Regions from separate parts of the Homo sapiens genome. Here region 1 is linked to region 2. The links come from fine-mapping of genetic effects on gene expression. A gene starts in region 2. The other region holds a variant in brackets. All regions are shown on one strand. Distances are between the middles of the regions. Region 1 overlaps BRD8 (bromodomain containing 8). Region 2 holds the start of CDC25C (cell division cycle 25C).

Evidence for each region. PIP is the estimated chance that this variant, and not a neighbour inherited with it, causes the effect.
Region 1: its variant is fine-mapped to the expression of CDC25C in nasal epithelium (TOPMed, PIP 0.94).

What each region holds. Positions count from the first base shown.
Region 1 is chr5:138,141,462-138,144,374 of GRCh38, forward strand. The region is part of intron 25 of BRD8 (bromodomain containing 8); the gene reads right to left. Among named protein-coding and RNA genes, the nearest start is that of NME5, 3.5 kb to the left of the region's middle. The variant T/A (reference allele first, on the strand shown) is at 1,554.
Region 2 is chr5:138,330,205-138,333,117 of GRCh38, forward strand. It overlaps CDC25C (cell division cycle 25C), which reads right to left and starts at 1,600. Exons shown (of 14, transcript NM_001790.5): 1 at 1,391-1,600; 2 at 783-1,014. The coding sequence starts at 976. LOC100128966 (a long non-coding RNA gene) reads left to right here and starts at 1,901. Exons shown (of 4, transcript NR_146628.1): 1 at 1,901-1,981. RefSeq lists enhancers at 758-1,711, 1,423-1,552, 1,563-1,612 and a silencer at 1,663-1,922.

The DNA.
Region 1 (2,913 bases), 190 kb before region 2:
AAATCTAAAGAGGTTAAGTACTCACTGAAAGGCACACAGCCTGAATTCCAATTCAGAGGCAGCCTGACTCCAGAGCCCACAGGTCAAGCCACTATATTCTACTATCAGAGGAGGAGTGCTGGCCCCAGGTATCAAAGTTGTAAAGAGCACCAATCATCAGTTTATCACACAGTAGTTATTTGCTGTTTACAATGTATAGTCATATATTATTTCATCTACTTCTCTTACTGCACAAATAAAAAGCTAAGAATAATTTTTTTCTCCTTTCATGGAGATGAAAAAAGGATCAAGTGAATATTAAGACAATATTAATGAGACACAGAAAGTAGATATATAAGAGAAGGCACAGCAGTGTAGAAAGAAGACTGAACTGCAGGTAAGAATCTGGGGCTTAGTTCTAGCTCTGCTATTAACTGTTGGTTGATCACGAGCAAGTCATGACCAAGCACCTCTGAGCTTTAGTTTCCTCATTCCTAAAGAAGTTTGTCTCTGCTGTTTGAATGATGGTATCATTGTCTCTGCTGTTTGAATGATGGTATCCCCTCCAAAATTCATGTTGAAACTTAATCCCAAGTGCAACAGTATTAAGAGGTGGAGCCTTTGGGAGGTAATTAATTCATGAGTGCTCTGCCTTCATGAATGGGATTAGCATCCTTATAAAAGGGCTCCATATCGAAGAGAGTGCCCTCTTATCCTTCTGTCCCTTCTGCCATGTGAGGATACAGCATTCGTCCCCTCTGCAGAATACAACAACAAGGCATCATCTTAGAAGCAGAAGCAGAGAGTAACCCACCTCACACACCAAAACTACCAATGCCTTGATCTTGCACTTCCCAGCCTCCAGAACCAAAACAAAGAAACATAGATTTCTATTATTTATAAATTATCCAGCCTGTGGTATTGTGCTATAGCAGCACAGACTAGTGACTCTCCAAAGGTCCTATCATGATCTTTTACATTCTATTACCATACAGGTTTATGACAGCATTTTAGATGACCTATGCTATAAAAACCCAAAATAGGCCGAGCACAGTGGTTCAAGCCTGTAATCCCAGCACTTTGGGAGGCCGAGGCAGGCGGATCACGAGGTCAAGAGATTGAGACCATCCTGGCCAACATAGTGAAACCCTGTCTCTACTAAAAATACAAAAATTAGCTGGGCGTGGTGACGTGTGCCTGTGGTTCCAGCTACTCAGGAGGCTGAGGCAGGAGAATCACTTGAACCCGGGAGGCGGAGGTTGCAGTGAGCCGAGATCTCATCACTGCACTCCAGCCTGGTGACAGAGCAAGACTGTCTCAAAAAAAAAAAAAAAAAAAAATCCAAAATAGGCTAGGATTACCTGCCTGTAATCCCAGCATTTTGGAAGGCTGAGGTGGGAGGATTGCTTGAGACTACGAGCTTAAGACCAACCTGGGCAATCTAGTGAGACCCCATATCTACAAAAAATTTAAAAATTCCTCCTCAGTGATATTCTGAAGAAAAATAAAGTTATTAATAACATTTCAAACAAAGAAAATATTTTATTATAATAAAAATATCAGGCCAGGCACAG[T/A]GGCTCACACCTGTAATCCCAGCACTTTGGGAGGCTGAGGTGGGTGAACTGCATGAGCCCAGGAGTCTGAGACAAGCCTGGGCACCATGGTGAAACTCTATCTCTATAAAAAATACAAAAATTAGCCGGGCATGGTGGCACACACCTCTAGACCCAGTTATTAGGGAGGCTGAGGTGGAAGGATTGCTTGAACCTGGGCAGTTGAGGCTCAGTTATCCAAGAAATGTGCCACTGCACTCCAGCCTGAGCAACAGAGTGAGACCTGTCTCAAAAAATAATAGTAAGTAAAAATTTAAAAAATAATAAATTTAAAAATTAGCTAAGTGCAGTGGCACATGCCTGTAGTCCCAGCTACTCCGGAGGCTGAAGTGGGAAGATTGCTTGAGCCCAGGAGGTCAAGGCTGCAGTGAACCATGATTGCACCACTGCACTCCAGCAACAGAGTGAGACCCTGTCTCAAAAAAATTTTTTTAAATAAAAAATAAAAATAAAATCCCAAAATACTGAGAGGTGAAGCTGGCTGGGCTTCTGGGTTGGGTGGGACTTGGAGAACTTTTCTGTCTAGCTAAAGGATTGTAAACACACCAATCAGTGCTCTGTATCTAGCTAAAGGTTTGTAAACACACCAATCAGCACTCTGTAAAAACGCACCAATCAGCGCTCTGTGTCTAGCTAAACATTTGTAAATGCACCAATCAGCGCTCTGTGTCTAGCTAAAGCTTTGTAAATGCACCAATCAGCACTCTGTAAAAACGCACCAAAAAAGGTTTGTAAACGCACCAATCAGCACTCTATAAAAATGGACCAATCAGCACTCTGTAAAATGGACCAATCAGTACTATGTAAAATGGACAAATCAGCAGGATGTGGAGGAGGCCAAATAAGGGAATAAAAGCTGGCCCCTCAAGGCAGCAGTGGCAACCCGCTGGAGTCCCCTTCCACACTGTGGAGGCTTTGTTCTTTCACTCCGCAATAAATCTTGCTGCTCCTCACTCTTTGGGTCCGCACTACCTTTATGAACTGTAACACTCACCGTGAAGGTCAGCCGCTTCGCTCCTGAAGCCAGCAAGACCACGAACCCAACAAGAGGAATAAACAACTCCGGATGTACCACCTTTAAGAGCTGTAACACTCACCGCCAAGGTCTGCAGCTTCACTCCTGAAGCCAGCGAGACCACCAACCCACTGGGAGGAACGAACAACTCCAGAGGCGCCACCTTTAAGAGCTGTAACACTCGCTGTGAAGGTCTGCAGCTTCACTCCTGAACTCAGCGAGACCACAAACCCACCGGGAGGAAGAAACTCCGGACACATCTGAACATCCGAAGGAACAAACTCTGGACACACCATCTTTAAGAAC
Region 2 (2,913 bases):
TTTTAAATGAGGCCCAGAGTTTATTGGCCGAGGGGGATCTTGACTCCACATTCCCGGTCCTGAGCACTATGAACACAGGCTTGATTTCTCCCTGGGGTCCCTAGTTTTTCTCAGGTACTACTTCTCTTTGCTAGTTGAGACATGGTATGATCAGAATTCAAAGTACAACTGCAATAACACTAATATTAATACTAATAAAGTGACCGACTCGTAATGCAGCGGTTTTCAAAGACTTTTCCCAGTTATCACATCATTTGATTCTCACAAGATCCTAGTAAGATAGGAAGCGATTATTATTTCTTTGTCTTTTCTTTTCTTTTTGAGATAGAGTCTCACTCTGTTTCCCAGGCTGAAGTGCAGTGAGGCGATCTTGGCTAACTGCAGCCTCCACCTCCCGGGCTCAAGCAATCCTCCCACCTCAGCCTCCCGAGTTGCTGGGACTATAGGTGCACACCACCACACTCAGCTAACTTTTAATATTTTTTGTAGAGACGGCGTCTTGCCATGTTGCCCAGGCTGGTCTTGAACTCCTAGACTCAGGCGATCCGCCCTCCTTGGCCTCCCAAAGTGCGGAGATTACAGGCATGAGCCACCTCGCCTGGCTGAGATTATTTCTTGTCACAGAAAAGAAGGTGAGACTCAAAAGGGTTACACAGTCAAGGGCAGAGTTGAGACTTAAAGCCTGACCTTTGAGCCGGGATAATTGAAAACAAACCAACAAACAAACCCAACTGTTTGGAAATAGCAAAGGCAATACAGTGTAAAAATAAAAGTATATTTACCCAGACAAAATGCTTAGGTTTGCAGAATCACCAAGAAATTTGCCCACTGGAGTTCTAGGGACATCTGGACAGACGGTAAAGGAAGTGTCTCTCTCCAGGAGCAGGTTTAACATTTTCCTTTGATTAGACCTAAAACTGGGTCCTGAGCCAGAGCTTCCTTCCTCTCTTGTGGATGAGAAGAGTTCCGTAGACATGGTCTTCGAATTCTCACCAGGAGAAAAACAAAACCTAGCTAGGAGGAAAACGTCATCTAAATCGGTACATCACAGTTCCCTCAGCTTTCCTAAACTCCTCCACCCTTTCCAGCCAGGCGAATCAACACTGGAAGAGGGGCAACCCCGAAGGGTGATTCACAGCCTGGCTTAAGGTTAGAACCTGAATTCACCGACGAGAGGCAACCTTAGGACCTTAAAGATGGAATGAAGAGAGGATTTTGACTTGTTCCACGCCACACAGCTCGAGACTCCTGACTAGAAAGAACCCGGGTCTCGTAACTCGCGATAGTCCCCATTCGGCCCTCCCAACCTCTGTCTGTGGGGGCCCGACTGGACCCTAAGGGGGACAATGGGGTCTCCGTGATTCCGTGGCGGAGACGGCTGCGGACTTACCTCAAGCCTGGAGTCTGAGGCTTGCCTACAAGAGGAGAGAAAGTAGATAGGGATCGGACACAGGCGAAGACTTGAGCAGAATGAAAGGAAATCTAGGGGAAAGGAGGTAGTTAACTAGATTGCAGCTCTGCCTTCCGACTGGGTAGGCCAACGTCGGACTCAGAGTCTTCCCTGAGCAGAAGGCCAAAGTTACGGCCTCTGAGCAAGAATATCAACAGCCGCAGGCGTTGACCATTCAAACCTTCCGCCAGCCCAGTAACCTATCCCCGCTCGCCTCTAAGCTGCGTCAGCCAATCTCCGCGCGCGCGCCCAGGGCCTCATGGCCTATCGTTGGGCTCGCAGATCACCTGGGGGCGTGTGCTTGCTCTGGAAATGGTAAGACTTGCCCCGCCCCATAGCCAGAGCAGGATAGTGTTTGGCCCACCAGCGTTAGGCAGGCTGCGGGGTAAGCTCCGCCTCACGGGGAGCCTGGCGCATCATTGGCTCTCCCTCTCACCAATCTCCACACCCTTTCTGTTTTCCTCGTTCCCTCAGCCCCACGAACCCCGGGAGATTTAAACCGCGCCTTACTAGTGATGTCCATTCACTAGGGTAATACTAGGAGAGATTATTTTGGGTGGAGGGTGTTGTAAGCGTTTCATTTTCTTCGCTTCTTTCTCGTGCCGTTTTCGCGGACGTTTTCTTCTAAGTTTTGCTGGCCTTCCACGGGAGATGGAGCGTTTGCTGCCGGCGTGGCAAGTGTTGGGGCGAGACGGGTGTGTGTGTTTATGCTGAGAGGCATTAGCCCCTTCCAAGAGCTTTGTTTGGTGTTTCTTTTAGTGTGCAGCATCTCAGAGACTCTAGCTCACGTGGGTAAAAAGAAATTCCGTTGCAGGGAAAGTGGAGGAATTAAATCATCTTGGTATAATCCTTATCGCAATCCAGAGGACCTCAAAGATTGGTTATTAATGAAAATTTGAACATTGACGAGGTGATATTTATAAATTATTGGCCGGACGCGTTGGCCCACACCTGTAATCCCAGCACTTTGGGAGGCCGAGGCGGGCAGATTACATGAGGTCAGGGGTTCAAAACCAGCCTGGCCAACATGATGAAACCCCGTCTCTACTAAAAATACAAAATTTAGCCGGTTGTGGTGGCACACACCTGTAATCCCAGCTACTTGGGAGGCTGAGGCATGAGAACTGCTTGAACTCGGGAGACAGAGGTTGCGCCACTGCACTCCAGCCTGGGCATTAGAGTGAAACAAACAAAAAGACATTCCTAATGTTAGGGATTTGCTTTTAAATAATCCTGTGCTGGGGGAAGGTATTGATGATACAAGATTGACCCTGACTGTTGAGTGATGGGGGCAGGAGGGTCCATCATATCTGTGCTTCTCAAGGTTTAATTTGCACACTAACCACCTGAGGACCTGCTAAATGCAGATTCTGATTCGGGATGTCTGGGTTGCGGTTGCGGCCCAAGATTCTGCCCTTCTAACAAGCCCCCAGCTGATGGTGAGGTAGCTGGTCCTACGACCA